Linked DNA regions of Homo sapiens. The protein of the gene in region 1 interacts with the protein of each later gene in a pairwise test. Each region holds a gene or a part of one and is shown in the gene's direction. Other genes may lie near its edges.

Region 1 (8,254 bases):
ACATAGGGAGAGCCTGTCTCTACAAAAATATATATTTTTTTAAATTAGCCAGGCATGGAGGCTCGTACCTGTAGTCCCAGCTACTTGGGAGACTGAGGTGGAAGGATCACTTGAGCCCATGAAGTCGAGGCTGCAGTAAGCTGTGACTGCACCACTGCACTCCAGCCTGGGTGACACAGTGAGACCCTGTCTTATATAAACAAACAAACAAACAAATAAATAAATAAATAAGTAGCTATTATCATCATCCCAATCTTAGGAATCCAATATCAGCTTGATAGTCACTTTTCAGGTCAACAATATCGTCAAGAAAAGTGTTGACACTCAGCTAATAAAATGGCAGAATGTTACCCTAGGATGTTATTGTGTCTGCCTTCTATTATCCCAAGATACAGGAGAACATTCATTTTTAAACTTCTCAAATGTGGAAAACAAACCCATTTGCTAAGATGATTTCCAATTTGAAATAGTTTCCAGCATTATATGAGCCACTCCCTGTACACCAAAGAGACATTCCCTTTACTTAATTTTATATCCCACTCGTGAAACATTTTCATGTGTTGGACCTACCAACTCCAACTGGATACCACTGACAGGAAGTGAGAAGGGTATGAGCCCTGGGGTAGGCATGCAGGGTGGGGAGACTGGCTTTTAGCTCTGGCTCTGGTTTTTACTGGAGTGATAACCTCTAAATTCTTTTCTAGCAACAGTTCTACAAATAATACCCCTTTCTCCTTCCCCGTTTCTTTCTACAGACTATTTCTTCAGTCATCCAGAGGCCGATGTAGGAGTCATTTATGAGTCCCTCAGTCTTTTATTCCCCCTATTCAATCAGTCATCAAGTGCCTCAGTCTTTCCTGAGAACATCTCTCAGATCAGGTCTTTCTGTCATGACTCTGCTTCTCTGTTGACTTCCTGTGGCCTGACAGGCTGAAGCTAAATATGTGGAATAGAAGACTCCTCAAAACCTGCCCTTTACCTCAGCCTCTAGTTGTATCTTCTGCTGCTTTCTCCCCACTGTGACCTTCTGCCCCAACCACACATACTCTCTCTCTCTCTTTCTCTCTTCTGTTTATGTTCCGTATTAGTTTCCTATCACTACTGTAACAAATTACCAAAAACTAGTACTATATGCAATACAAATTTATTATCTTACAGTTGGATCAGTCAGAAGTCTGACAAGTCTCAATAAATTAAAATCAAGGTGTCAATAGGGCCGTATTTCTTCTGGAGGCTCTACAGGAGAATTCATTTCTTTTCCTTTTCCAGGTTCTAGAGGTCACCGCCTTTCCTTGGTTCATGGCTGCTTTCCTTCATCTTCAAAGCCAGAAACATTGGGCCAAGCCCTTCTGTCTCTCCCTCTTCTACTTTAAAAGACCCTTGTGGCCCAGCCTGGCCAACATGGTGAGACTACTAAAAATACAAAAATCAGCTGGGTGTGTGCACGCCTGTAATCCGTAGCTACTCAAGAGGCTGAGGCAGGAGAATTGCTTGAACCTGGGAGGCGGAGGTTGCAGTGAGCCAAGATCGTGCCACTGCACTCCAGACTGGGCAACAGAGTAAGACTCCGTCTCAAAAAAAAAAAAAAAAAAAAAGAAAGAAAATGAAAAAGGACCCTGTGATTACATTGAGCTCAGTTAGATAATCTTGCTATGTCAGCTGATTAGCATCCTTAATTGCATCTACAACCTTAATTCTTCTTTGCCTTGTAACCTGTTACCTTCACAGTTTCGGTTCAGGGGATTAGGAGGTAGACATCTTTAGGGGAGCATTATTTTGCCTCTCTCATCCTCTGCCTCCCAAATTGTCAGAGATGCTTTTTATTCCCTCTTTATTATTTTACAATTAATCGTAGTAACAATCAATTGAATATTACCACAATTATGAGAATGTTTCAATTAAGTAAGTTTGACTGTAAATTATATATCCAGAGGTCTGGATTTATATTTTTAGGAAAAAACTCCACAATACTGAATGGCTTTATCTAAATTTAGCTTGCATTTTAAATCATATTTTTAACCACTCTGGGGATCCTAATAAAACACAAAGCATTTTAACATCTTATTGGTTTAAATTAACTAAGTATACTAATGATAACACATACCTATCAATTATATTTCATAGTTAAATCTTGAGAGAAATAAGCTTCAAATAAGTATTTTGAAAGGTTAATGCTAGGGTCTAATGTTACAATATATCTAAAATATTTCTGTGTTAATCTTACAATTTTAGAAAATCTCTAGTATGTTTAAGCTTAAAATGTTCTGGTTGTTATCACTTTTTTAGGCTCACAGAAGGGAGGCAGGCACAGATGGAAAAACGTAAGTTACTTACCCTTTTGGTCTGAAAAACACTGCAAACAGTAATCATACTTTTAGAGCATCAAATACGGGGCTGGAGCCTGGGCTGTGATAGAAATAACTTCGTCTTTTCTAATAACATGACCTTAACAGAACAGACAATGGAGACAGAGGGAAAAGCAGCAGCCAGAAATTCTTGTAAAGGTTCCAGAAGGTGAACCATGCTTTTTGGTTTTTCACCTATGTCATGCTGATATTAAGCAGTCAGATTATATAGTATTTTTGTCCCTTCCTCAGGGAAGCCTTCTCTGGTTACCCCTTAGATCAGTAGAGGTCACAAAGATATACTATCATGGAATGGTATGGTTCTCCTTCACAGCACTTATAACTCCCATTACAGACTATTTTTGTAATTGTTTAATGTGCCCTCCACGTGATTACCATGCTTACCACTGCATCCTTAGCTTCTACCACAGTGATTGGCCCCTATTAGACAATTAAAATATTTGTTGAACTGAATTGAATAAAGCTTTGGGGGGCACAGAGCAGCTGCTATGGTTTTTGTTTGTTTTTGTTGTTGTCGTTTTTGAGAGGGAGTCTCCTTCTGTTGGCCAGGATGGAGTGCGGTGGCGCAATCTCTTGGCTCACTGCAACCTCCGCCTCCCGGGTTCAAGCGATTCTCCTGCCTCAGCCTCCTGAGTAGCTGGGACCACAGGCACACACAACCACGCTCGGCTAATTTTTGTATTTTTATTAGAGACATGGTTTCACCATGTTGGCCAGGCTGATCTCAAACTCCTGATCTCAAGTGATCCGCCCGCCTCGGCCTACCAAAGTGGTAGGATTACAGGCGTGAGCCACCGCGCCTGGCTGCTATGCTGTTTTGCTTCTTTGGTATCGTGTAGCACATTCAGTACAAGTGATGTCCTCCGCTCTCAATAAGTGCTTCCTAAAGAACTCACATTTCACCCATTCAGAACCTTGCATGGTGTAGTAGCTGAAGTTACTACTTCAAGGACTCCTTCTCTTTATCTTGGGTAGAGAGGAACAATGTGAACTCAGCAAAGGGATCATGAAAACAGATTTTCTCTTATGTTACTTGTAGAAAGCTTTTAGATTTATCATTGAAAATTGCGAATTTTGAACCATATCCATTTTGACTTAATTGTATTTTAAAACAGTGGTTCTCAAAAAAGTGTGGTTCCGGGACCAACATCATCAGCATCGTGGGAACTTGTTAGAAACACAAATCCTTGGGCCTCACCACTGAACTAATGACTTAGAACAGGGGTTGGACTGGGGAATTCTGTGTTTTAACAAGTCCTCCAGGTGATTCTGACGCATGCCAGTTTGAGAATCACTTTTTTAAACCAATGTTTAAGTCCAATCTAACCTACTTAACTATTAACAGTCTACCTGGCTATCTACCTGTGGTAGTGTAGTATGTAACAGCCCACAGCACACATGCTCAATTCCAAGCCTATCTGCTCTCCGCAATCAGTATATTCCTCCTGCAATTTATCATGGTATGAAAGGCCCAGTGATACACATATTTGGTCATTTTCAAATAGTGCCTGCCAGCATAGTGGCTCACACCAGTCATCCCAGCACTTTGGTAGGGTGAGGCGAGATGATCATTTGAGCTCAGGAGTTTGAGAACAGCCCGGACAACATGGCGAAACCCCATTTCTACAAAAAAAAAAAAAAAATTAGCCAGCGGTAGTGGCGTGCTACTTGGGAGGCTGAGGTGGGAGGATCCCCTGACCCCTGGAAAGTGGAGACTGCAGTGAGCCATGACTGCACCACTGCACTCCAGTCTGGGCGACAGAGACAGACCCTGTCTGAAAAAAAAGTGCCCTTCACAGAAGCTTCCTCAGGGTATTAGCATGAGCATGTGAAAGTACAGTATGTTTATCAAACACATAAAATAAGCAGTTATAAATAACGTCAGAATAACACAAGGAGGCCAATTATCAAAATGAAAGGCTAGTTTTGCATGCTGTGCTTTGCGGAGAGAAGGAAGAGGGAGTTTTCATGTTATTACACTTTTGATAGCAGAATCCTATATTTTGGTGCAGAGGTGGCAAAATAAGGCGGGGGGTGCTGGTGCGCAGAAGCTGACAAGGTTAGAATGTGCAGCGTTTTTACGACGGACTGGCTTTACTCATTTCCTGCCTCACTTCTCTCCTATCTGTATAGGTTTTTCTTTTCGTCCTCCTCTACCAGTACGCTCCCGCCTGCCGCGCTCCGCCCTTGTGCGGCGCACGATCGGAGTCAGTGATTAAGCCGGCTCCAAGACAAAGCGGAGGCCGAGCCCAGGAAGCAAGCGCGCTCTCCGCCCCGCCTGGAGGGAGGGCCCAACCACAGCACAGCCGCGCTCACTCCTCACCCGGACGTGACCTAGTTCTCACAGAGGCCCGGCCTCTTCCGCCACAACTCCGGCCCGCGGTCCCGCCCCGTTCCGTGAATGGTCGGCCGGCCTCAGGTCAAAAAAGCGTTTAGGTGTCTGCGACGGAGCCTCCGGAGAAAGGCAAGCACGTCGCAGCCAATGAGGTGATAGAAACGCAAAGCAGCGACCAATGACTAGCTGAGTTGGGCTGGGCCGGCCGACGAATCACGAGGCTTCGCACCCGGATATGGTTATGGGCTCGGAAATCTAGTTCGGGAAAAGTGTGAGGGGCTCTTCACGTGGGGAAGGAACAGCAGGCGCGGAGGAGGGGGCAAGCGTGTGTGAGATTCAGTGGTCCATGCGTGCGTTTGTCGTGTAAGGGTCATTCCTGGGGTTTGGAGTGGGGGAACAAATCAATGTGGCTGTTTTTCCGTGGAAAGAATTCCCACTGCAGTGTCCCGGAGCCTGCGTGTGGTGGGCAAGCTCCTCAAATGGTATCTCACAGGGAATAGGGGAGTCTTGAAAACGCAGCTTCGGCAGTAGGAACATGAACCTCTTACCTAAAAGTTCCAGGGAGTTTGGCTCCGTTGACTATTGGGAGAAGTTCTTCCAGCAGCGAGGAAAGAAAGCTTTCGAGTGGTATGGAACCTACCTGGAACTGTGCGGGGTGCTACATAAATATATCAAGCCCAGGGAAAAGGTGAGGAGCGCGGGTTGGTAGCCCTTCGTACGTGCTCCGGAAGGTGGGAACTGGTAACAGGAATCTTGCACTTGGTGGACAGTGACAGGCGGGAGGACCCTAGTTGGACGCATATTTCAGCATTTCCTGCATTGTTCCTGCTAAAAGACAAACTAGAATATTCTTTCAGGCCGGGCGCAGTGGCTCACACCTGTAATCCGAACACTTTGGGAGACCGAGGTGGGAGGATCGCTTGAGCCCTGGAGTTAAAGACCAGCCTGGGGAACATGAGACCTCGTCTCTACAAAAAATGAAAAAATTAGCCGGGCGTGGTGGCGCGCATCTGTATTTCCAGCTACTCGGGAGGCTTAGGCGGGAGGATCGCTTGAGCCCAGGAGGTCGAGGCTGCAGTGAGCCATGATCACGCCACTGCACTCCAGCCTGGGTGACAGAGTGAGACCCTGTCTAAAAAAAAAAACATTTCTTTAAAGGTTTTCAGATAATAGACCTCCCACCCCAGCTCATTCTTGGATTAATAACCCTACTTGAAGAGTGACTTCCCATCTTGAAAGTATGTTCTTCTGTCACTGTGCATTCCTGTGCAACCTGCAGCAGGTGTGACTTTGTGTATGAATTTGTTTTTCAAATAGTCGTTGAGTGCGCCCCAAGTTTCAGGCACTGCTCAGTCCTTAAACTATAAGAGCATTAAGACGTAAACCCTGCACATGTTCCAGAAGTGAAACGTGATAAGTACAACAATGGGTTTGGTATAGGTGAGATTGTACTGGAGGTAGGGAAGGAGGAAGGTAGAAAACTTAACATTTGTGGGGAAGCTTTATGTGCCAAGCCTTATGTTGGGTGCTGTGTATGTGCATGTGCAATCTTTGAATTCTCATCATAAATTCAGGTGAGTGGCCATGCATACATTTTACAGATGAGGAAACTGAGGCCCCGAGAGCCACTTTTTTTTTTTTTTTTGCCCAAGATCATGTCCAGGTGGTCATGTGGGGATTTAAACTCAGGCCTGTCTGGCTCCAGAGCATATGCACATCTCTTTGTACCATGCTTTTCCAAAGATGGCAATATCAGAATTTCTAAGTTTGAATGGGAGATTGCTCCCTGGAGAGGGAGACAACAATCTGAATTTTAAGTTCGGCTTCAGAAGATAGCCAAATATCATGAGATGGAATCCGTGATGGAAGTAAGATTTGAATCCTCACAAAGTGTACTTTATTGTCTAAAGGAGCCAAAGGCATGAGTAGAGTGAGGAAATAGGGTTATTCCTGGCCTAGGATTTCAACTGTAACTCTATATTTGGATTCTCTGACTTCCTATTAATTCCTGAGTAATAAGTGCATGATTTAGAGAAAAGAACAGTTATGATTAATTTGTTTCTGCAACACAAAGCCCATTCTCATATAACCTGTATTGTAGCTGAATGTGGTTTTCACTAGCAAGTATATGTGGTGTTTCAAGATAGAGTCTAGCATCAACTCTACAATGTCGCTCTTTCTCTGGCAGTAGCGTCTCCACCTTCTGAAAATGTGACTCAGCCAAGGTGAGACTTGATTCCTTGAAGTACCTGAAGTACAGTCCTTTGCTTTGATTACCTCCCTCTTGTCTGTGAATTTTTTCTCCAGGTGCTGGTGATTGGGTGTGGCAACTCAGAACTGAGTGAGCAACTGTATGATGTGGGCTATCGGGATATAGTGAACATCGACATCAGTGAGGTTGTCATCAAGCAAATGAAGGAATGTAATGCCACCCGACGGCCCCAGATGAGCTTCTTGAAGATGGACATGACGCAGATGGAGTTTCCTGATGCCTCGTTCCAGGTGGTGTTGGACAAGGGCACCCTGGATGCTGTCCTGACAGATGAGGAAGAGAAGACCTTACAACAGGTGGACAGGATGCTGGCTGAGGTTGGCCGTGTCCTGCAGGTGGGCGGTCGCTATCTCTGCATCTCCCTGGCTCAGGCTCACATCCTGAAGAAAGCAGTGGGCCACTTCTCCCGGGAGGGGTGGATGGTGAGGGTGCACCAAGTGGCCAACAGCCAGGACCAGGTGTTGGAAGCAGAGCCTCAGTTCTCCTTGCCTGTCTTTGCCTTCATCATGACCAAGTTCAGGCCAGTCCCTGGCTCTGCCCTTCAGATCTTTGAGCTGTGTGCTCAGGAGCAGCGCAAGCCTGTGCGGCTGGAGAGTGCCGAGCGGCTGGCCGAGGCGGTGCAGGAGCGACAGCAGTATGCCTGGCTGTGCAGCCAGCTGCGCCGCAAGGCCAGGCTGGGGAGTGTGTCTCTGGACTTGTGCGATGGGGACACGGGGGAGCCACGCTACACCCTCCACGTGGTGGACAGCCCCACTGTGAAACCATCGCGGGACAATCATTTTGCGATTTTCATCAGTGAGTTGGGATTGCTCCCTCTCTTCCCTGGAGGGGCTGGCTTACAGGGGCTGGGGCTTGGGCTGGGGCTGGGGCTGAGGCTGGGCTGGGGCTTTGGTGGGATTCTGGACTGTTTTTTGTCTTGCAGGGGTTTGTACTTCCAGAGGATTAGACTACCCAAGGCATGATGAAAGGAGAGTAATAGCTCTCTAGCAACCTACTTGGAGTTGAGACCTATTCCTTTTCATCTGCCATTGCAAAGGCTTGATGAAGTGTGAGAATGGGGTTGGTAGGGAAGAGAGAGAATAGAGATAAATTTAGGAGGTCACATATGATATAGAGATGCTAGTTACTTTGTAGCATGGAGTAATGGAAGTAATGCTGGACTAGCAAGTCTAAGACATAGGTTCTAGTCCCAGCTGTAGCCTGTGAGCTGCAGGACCTGGGGAAGTTGCTGTGCTTCTCTGCAAAATTTGGAGAGGCAGCATAGGGTAGCAGCTAAAAAAG
Region 2 (7,872 bases), on another chromosome or scaffold:
GAACCCTGGTTTTTTGTTTTTAAATCTTATTTTATTTATTTATTTATTTTTGAGACGGAGTCTTCCTCTGTCGCCCAGGCTGGAGTGCAGTGGCACCATCTCTGCTCACTGCAAGCTCTGCCTTGCCTCCTGGGTTCACGCCATTCTCCTGCCTCAGCCTCCCGAGTAGCTGGGACTACAGGCGCCCACCAGCACACCCGGCTAATTTTTTGTATATTTAGTAGAGAAGGGGTTTAACCATGTTAGCCAGGATGGTGTTGATTTCCTGACCTCGTGATCTGCCCACCTTGGCCTCCAAAAGTGCTGGGATTACAGGCGTCAGCCCCAGCGCCCGGCGTTTTTTTTTTTTTTTTGAGATGAGACGGAGTGTCGCTCTGTTGCCCAGGCTGGAATGCAGTGGTGCGATCTCAGCTCACTGCAACCTCCGCCTCCCGAATTCAAGTGATTCTCTGCCTCAGCCTCCTGAGTAGCTGGGATTCCAAGCACCTGCTACCACGCTTGGCTAATTTTTGTATTTTTAGTAGAGACGGGGTTTCACCATCTTGGCTATGCTGGTCTCGAACTCCTGAACTGTGATCCACCCGCCTCGGCCTCCCAAAGTGCTGGGATTACAGGTGTGAACCACCGCACCCGGCCAGAACCCTGGTTCTTTAGGACAGTGACAGCCCAGAGTAGTCAGGGCCATCAGGCAGGAAGCTTAGGCAGAGTGTTGAGGGCTGGGATTGGGAACTTAGAAAGACAGAGAGATCCATTCAGCTTCCAGGAAAAGGAGACATTTTGGAGAGCCTGCCAGGTACAGTAAGCAGTATTTATGTTACACTGAGGGAGAAGAGCATTCTTAACTTGGTCCAGCTTGTTCAGATGTTTAGGGTCAAAAGAGCCTGGCGTATTCTGAGTATTACAAGTAGTTTTGAGGCTTGTAAATCATGGGGAAACTTCCAGTGAGCTGTGCACTGGTGGCTCATGGCTGTGAGGTGTTGGACTTTGCCCTGAGGGTGTTGGGGAGCCAGACTGCTTCCCTGTCCTGGCTGCCTCCCTGGTGGAATATCCTCCCAGCTGTGGAGGGTAAATGCGAATGGGCGAGGGGAGGCTGGAGAGTAGAGAGAGGCCCAGAGTCCCGTGGAATGAGTGAAGTCTGAGCAAGATTCATGGGGATGGAGTACGGAGAGGAAAACCAGAAATGTCACCACCAGGAGAATTTTTGACTAATTGCTTAAAAACAACCTTGACTGCTGTCCCTGCCCCCACCCAGCCTACACATTTTCTTGCTTCTTTCCTAGCCTGGTATCTATTTTACAAGTGGCTTCTGCTTCAGCTTAGCTTTTTTTTTTGAGATGGAGTTTCGATTTGTCACCCAGGCTGGAGTGCAGTGGCGCAATCTCTGCTCACTGTAACTTTTGCCTCTCTGGTTCAAGCTATTCTCATGCCTCAGCCTCCCCAGTAGCTGGGATTACAAGCGCCCTCCACCACGCCTAGCTAATTTTTTTTCTTTTCTTTTTTTTTTTTTTTTTTTTTTTTGGCATTTTTAGTCAAGACGGGGTTTCACCGTCTTGGCCAGGCTGGTCTTGAACTCCTGACCTCACGTGATCTGCCTCAGCCTCCCAAAGTGCTGGAATTATAGGCATGAGCCACCATGCCTGGCCAGTTTTTATGAAGGTTGGAGTCCAGTGGTGAGGTCATGGCTCACTGCAACCTCTGCCTCCCAGGCTAGAGTGATCCTCCCACTTCAGCCTCCCAAGTAGCTATGACCACAAGGCATGCACCACTATGCCTGGCTAATTTTTGTATCTTTTGTAGAGACAGGGTTTCACCCTATTGCCCAGACTGGTCTTGAACTCTTGAGTGCAAAGGATCTGCCCACCTCGGCCTCCCAGAGTGCTGGGATTACAGGTGTGAGCCACCATGCTTGGCCATCTCAGCCATCTTCTTTGCATAAGACATTGGTGCCCTTTGCAGACCTGGGTGGTGAGAGGGAGTCCATCCTTGTTGAGCTTGAATCTCACTTGCTGTCAAGTGATGCCCTTTGCTGGTGAGATGTGGTGGTACCGGGTTCAGATGGAATACGTGGACTGGGCTCTGCCATACGCTTCCTTATGCCCTCCAGATTGATGCCCTGGGCCAGTGAGGAATCCTCTGAGAACCTGTTTCCAGTAAAATTGGGACAGTCATAGTTGCCACCTAATGGGTTTGTTGTGAGGAAGTGAAGTTACCTCCATAAAGCATTTGATGGGGGTGCGATGACTCATGCCTGTAATCCCAGCACTTTGGGGAAGCCAAGGCAGGAGGATCACTGGAGCCCAGGAGTTCAAGACCAACCTGGCCAACATAGGAGACTGTGTCTACAAAAAATAAAAAATTAGCCGTGCGTCGTGCTGCGTGCCTATGGTCCCAGCTCCTTGGGAGGCTGTGGTGGGAAGATTGCTTGAGCCTGGGAGGTCAGGCCTGTAGTAAGCTACCATCATGCCACTGAACTCCACCCTGAGCAGTAGAAGGAGATTCTGTCTTTAAAAAAAAAAAAAGGCACTTGATGGTATCTAGTCAAATGTTTGCAGCCAGGTGTGGTGGCACACTCCTGTAATCCCAGCACTTTCGGAGGCCAAGGTGGGCTAATTGCTGAAGCTCAGGAGTTCAAGACCAGCCTGGGCAACATAGCAAGACCCTGTCTCTGCACAAAATCCAGAAATTAGCTGGGCATGGTGGCATACACCTGTGGTCCCAGCTACTCCATAGGCTGAAGTGGGAGGACCGCTTGAGTCCGGGAGGTTGAGGCTACGGTGAGCCATGATCATGCCACTGCACTCCAGCCTGGGTGACAAAGTGAGACCTTGTCACCAAAAAAAAAAAAAAAAAATTGTGGTGGAGTCTGTGCTAGGCTTGGCATACTGCAGTAAACAAATGGGACAGGCTTATAGCTCCTCAGGCAAGATAGACAAGTTAACGTACCATGACAGGAGGTGGGAAATAGTCATGAAAGAAAAGGAAGTAGAGTAAGAATGACATGGGAAGAAATTTAGACGTCGTGGTCAGAGGTGGCAACATTTCCTCTGAGACTGGGTGACTAGAAGGAGGCCACCATGTAAACCTCAGGGGAGGGATGTTCCAGGTAAAGAGAGCAGCCAGTTCAAAGGCCCTGGGGCAAAATTGGTGTGTCAGACCTGGGGGCCAGTGTGGTTGGGAACTCAGGAGGGCGGTGGAATGTGGGCAGGGATGAGGTGGGGGAAATCTGCCAGGGCCACGTCATGCAGGCCCATGTCAGGGTGCTGGTGGCAGTGAAAAGAATCACTCATTTATCGAGTGTTTACTACGTGCCGGATGCTGTCCTGAGCACTTTGCATGTATGTGCACATGTTCATTATATAGCAGCTCTCTGTAAGCACATCTTACAGAAGAGTAGAAGAGTGTACTTGGCCACTTGAGTGGTTCCTGGCTGCTTCTGTGATTGTTAGGTCTTGAGAGATTATGGACCCGAGGCATTCTGGGTACCCCATCAATTGGCTGATGGTCTTCTATTTGGGCTGCGCTTCTTCTAAAAAGGGGAGCTCAAAGGTCTTTTTTTCCCCCACTGCAGAGCTAAAAAAGTCCCTGTACGCCATCTTCTCCCAGTTTGGCCAGATCCTGGATATCCTGGTATCACGGAGCCTGAAGATGAGGGGCCAGGCCTTTGTCATCTTCAAGGAGGTCAGCAGCGCCACCAACGCCCTGCGCTCCATGCAGGGTTTCCCTTTCTATGACAAACCTATGGTGAGCATTGCGGGTACGGAGGCTGTGTGGGTGTGTAAAATGTTATAGGAGACTGGGCGGGCCTGGATTAGAGGAGGGGATATTACGGTTCATTTGCCAAGGTGAGGCTGGACCAGGCTCCCACTGCACCTTGCCTCATTTAAAAATCTTTTCTTTGGCCGAGGGCGGTGGCTCACGTCTGTAATCCTGGCACTTTGGGAGGCCGAGGCAGGTGGATTACCTGAGCTCAGGAGTTTGCAGCCAGCCTGGGCAACACCGTGAAACCCTGTCTCTACTAAAATACAAAAATTAGCTCGGTGTGGCAGCATGCACCTGTAGTCCCAGCTACTCCTGTGGCTGAGGAAGGAGAATTGCTTGAACCCGGGAGGCAGAGATTGCAGTGAGCCGAGATCCTGCCACTGCACTCCAGCCTAGGCAACAGAGTGAGACTCTGTCTCAGAAAAAATAAATAAATAAATAAATAAATAAATAAATTATTTTGAGACAGAATCTTCCTCTGTTGCCCAGGCTGGAGTGCAGTGGTGCAATCTTGGCTCACTGCAACCTCCACCTCCCGGGTTCAAGTGATTCTCCTGCCTCAGCCTCCTGAGTAGCTGGGATTACAGGCACGTGCCACCATACCTGGCTGATTTTTTTATTTTTAGTAGAGACGGGGTTTCGCCATGTTGCCCAGGCTGGTCTCAAACTCCTGAGCTCAAGTGATCTGCCTGCCTCAGCCTCCCAAAGTGCTAGGATTACAGGCGTGAGCTACTGTGCCACACTAAGAATCTTTAACATACCTTCCCCTACTGAATAAGCACCATGAAAGAGGGGTTTTTGTCTATTTTGTTCATTGCTTTATTCCCAGAGCCTTGAATGGCGCCTGGCATCTGGCAGGTTCTCCTTAAACAGCTAAGTGAGTGAGATTGAACCTGGAAGACTGAAGTATTCTTGTGTGACAGGAAATCCCCCTGCACTGCACTCCTCTCCTAGCATTGTCTCCTCGGTCCTTTGGCCTGATGTTTATTGCTGTTCCAGCTTCCCTTAAAAATACCAACAGCCTTTCTACTGAACACTTGCTTACTGTGTGTCAGGTACTGTTCCAAGCACTTTAACTCATTTAGTCCTCACAACAGTCCTTTGAAGTGGGAAGTATCATAATCCCCATTTTTCAGACAAGGAAGTTAAGGCCAAGATATTTCTGTGTTTCTCAGTAAGCTCCTGATAAGGTCTGAATTTTTTTTTGTTTGTTTGTTTTTTGTTTTTTGTTTTTTGCTCTGTTGCCTGGGCTGGAGTGCAGTGGTGCCATCTCAGCTGACTGCAACCTTCGCCTCCTGGGTTCAAGCGATTCTTCTGCCTCAGCCTCTTGAGTAGCTGGGACTACAGGTGCGCACCACCATGCCCAGCTAATTTTTGTATTTTTGGTAGAAATGGGGTTTCCTGGCCAGGCGCAGTGGCTCATGCCTGTAATCCCAGCACTTTCGGAGGCCGAGGTGGGTGGATCACCTGAGGTCAGGAGTTCGAGACCAGCCTGGCCAACATGGTGAAACCCTGTCTCTACTAAAAGCACAAAAATTAGCCAGGCGTGGTGGTGGGCGCCTGTAATCCCAGCTAGTAGGGAGGCTGAGGCAGAATTGCTTGAACCCGGGAGGCAGAGGTTGCAGTCAGCTGAGATCTCATCACTGCACTCTAGCCTGGGTGACAGAGCAAGACAATGTCTCAAAAAAAAAAAAAAAAGAAAAGAAACAAAGAAATGGGGTTTTGCCATGTTGGCCAAGCTGGTCTCCACCTCCTGGCCTCAAGTGATCTGCTCGCTTTAGCCTCCCAAAGGGCTGGGATTACAGGCATGAGCCGCAGCACCTGGCCCCTGATAAAGGTCCAATTTTGAATCTTGGCAATTGGGCTCTGAATCCACGCTCTTAACCCGTTCTGCTCTCTGTTTGGTAGCGTATCCAGTATGCCAAGACCGACTCAGATATCATTGCCAAGATGAAAGGCACCTTCGTGGAGCGGGACCGCAAGCGGGAGAAGAGGAAGCCCAAGAGCCAGGAGACCCCGGCCACCAAGAAGGCTGTGCAAGGCGGGGGAGCCACCCCCGTGGTGGGGGCTGTCCAGGGGCCTGTCCCGGTAAGCCAGGTCCCGGAGACCAACCCTCCCACTGCCAGACCTTCCTCAGCCACATGGACTGGCTTTGGGACAGGGTGGGGAGAGTTCTCCCCTTGGGGCTTCAGACCCCTCCTTTCCATTTCTTTATAGAGATGTGTTTCTCTCTCTCTTTTGGGGGGTATTGAGCACCTAGATGATGCTATCTCCTTTCGAAACTCTTGTTCCCTCCTTGTGACTGTTTCTCAAGGTCTTTCTTCATGGCTATGACTTGGTTTCGCTCTCTCCGTGGCCTTGATTTTGTCGCCTGTGTCTTGTAACTCATTGTGCATGTAGAAAATCCAAGTGTCTACTAAGCAACTGTTAGGATTAATAAGTGAACTTAAATTTAGAAAGATCGCTGGATATAAAGGCAATATGGAAAAAAATTAGTTTTATTTATTTATTCATATTATGTTTTGAGACAGGGTCTCACTGTCACCCAGGTTGGAGTGCAGTGGCGCCATCACAGCTCACTACAACCTCCGCCTCCCAGGCTCAAGTGATACGCCTCAGCCTCCCTAGCAGCTGGAACTGTCAGTCCGTGCCACTCCACCCAGCTAACTTTTGCATTTTTTGTAGAGACGGGGCTTAGCCATATCACCCAGGCTAGTCTCAAACTCACTGTCTCAGCCTCCCAAAGTGCTAGGATTACATGCATGAGCCACCATGGCTGGCCCCCAGTTTTATTTTTATATGCCAGTAACAGACCAGTAGACTTCACATTGAAAAGTAGCACTGAGGGGTAAATCCAACAAAAGGTTTGCAGAACGACTACACTGAAATCACAGAATGTAGCTGGGAGAAATCAGAGACTCAGCAATGGATAGGAAGACTCAGTATTGTCAAGAGGTCAGTTCCATCCAAATTAATTGAAGATTCAACGTGATTGCAATCAAAATCCCACCAGGAATTTCGGTAAACACTGGACACTGATTGGCTCTTTCTAAATGTGTGGAAAGACAAGGCCAAGCCAGGCGAGGAGAATAAAGCACCAGGACCTGCATGACCAGGGGAAGCTCCAGCAACCAGGCCAGGCCCAATGGCTCATGCCTGTAATCCCAGCACTTTGGGAGGCCAAGATAGGAGGATTGCTTTAGGTCAGGAGTTCAAGACCAGCCTCTATAAAATAGCAAGACCTCATCTCTACAAAAAATAAAATAGAAAACTGGGCGTGGTGACTCATTCCTGTAGTCCCAGCTGCTCAGGAGGCTGAGCTGGGAGGATCGCTTGAGAACTGGAGGTCAAGGCTGCAGTGAACAGTGGTTTTGTCACTGCACTCCAGCCTGGGTAACAGAGTGAGACCTTGTCTCTTTTTTGTTTTGTTTTGTTTTCTTTTGTTTTTTTTCGGGAGGGAGTCTCAGTCAATCTGTCTCCCCAGGCTGGAATGCAGTCGTGCAATCTCGGCTCACTGCAACCTCTGCCTCTCAAGTTCAAGTGATCTTCTGCCTCAGCCTCCCAAGTAGCTGGATCACAGGCACATGCCACCACGTCCATGTGCAAAAAAAAAAAAAAAACCTGCAGCAACCAACCAGGATGATATACAGTTGGCAGAAGGGTAGGAAGACAGACCAAGGGGACAGGATGAAGAGTCTAGGTACAGCTACACTTGTATAATTACTTGATGTGTGATCGAGGTACCACTGCACTTCACTGAGGAAAGGACTTTTTTTCCCCTAGTTCATGATGCGGGGCAGTTGGGTATCTGCAAGGGGAAAAAATTAGCCCTACCTCATACTATATGCAAAATATAACTTGAAGTGAATTGCAGATCCAAATGTGACAACTCACAAAATATAGTTTCTTTTCTCTTTTCTTTTCTTTTTCTTTTTCTTTTTTTTTTTTTTTTTTTTTTTTTTGAGACAGAGCCTCGCTCTGTAGTCCAGGCTGGAGTGCAGTGGTGTGATCTCAGCTCTCTGCAACCTGCGCTTCCTGGGTTCAAGCGAGTCTCCTGCCCCTGCCTCCCGAGGATCTGGGACTACAGGCATGTGCCACCACACCCAGCTAATT

What was found. The genes of interacting proteins can lie anywhere in the genome.
Region 2: the proteins of METTL13 (region 1) and SNRPA interact in binary tests that used the Homo sapiens proteins (3 or more experiments, as listed by UniProt).

The regions. Positions count from the first base shown.
Region 1 is NC_000001.11:171,776,732-171,784,985, forward strand, and holds the start of METTL13 (eEF1A lysine and N-terminal methyltransferase), read left to right. Parts: upstream 1-4,928; 5' UTR 4,929-5,236; coding exon 5,237-5,389; intron 5,390-7,008; coding exon 7,009-7,768; intron 7,769-8,254. UniProt on the Homo sapiens protein: Dual methyltransferase that catalyzes methylation of elongation factor 1-alpha (EEF1A1 and EEF1A2) at two different positions, and is therefore involved in the regulation of mRNA translation.
Region 2 is NC_000019.10:40,753,764-40,761,635, forward strand, and holds part of SNRPA (U1 small nuclear ribonucleoprotein A), read left to right. Parts: intron 1-3,568; coding exon 3,569-3,741; intron 3,742-5,667; coding exon 5,668-5,847; intron 5,848-7,872. UniProt on the Homo sapiens protein: Component of the spliceosomal U1 snRNP, which is essential for recognition of the pre-mRNA 5' splice-site and the subsequent assembly of the spliceosome. U1 snRNP is the first snRNP to interact with pre-mRNA.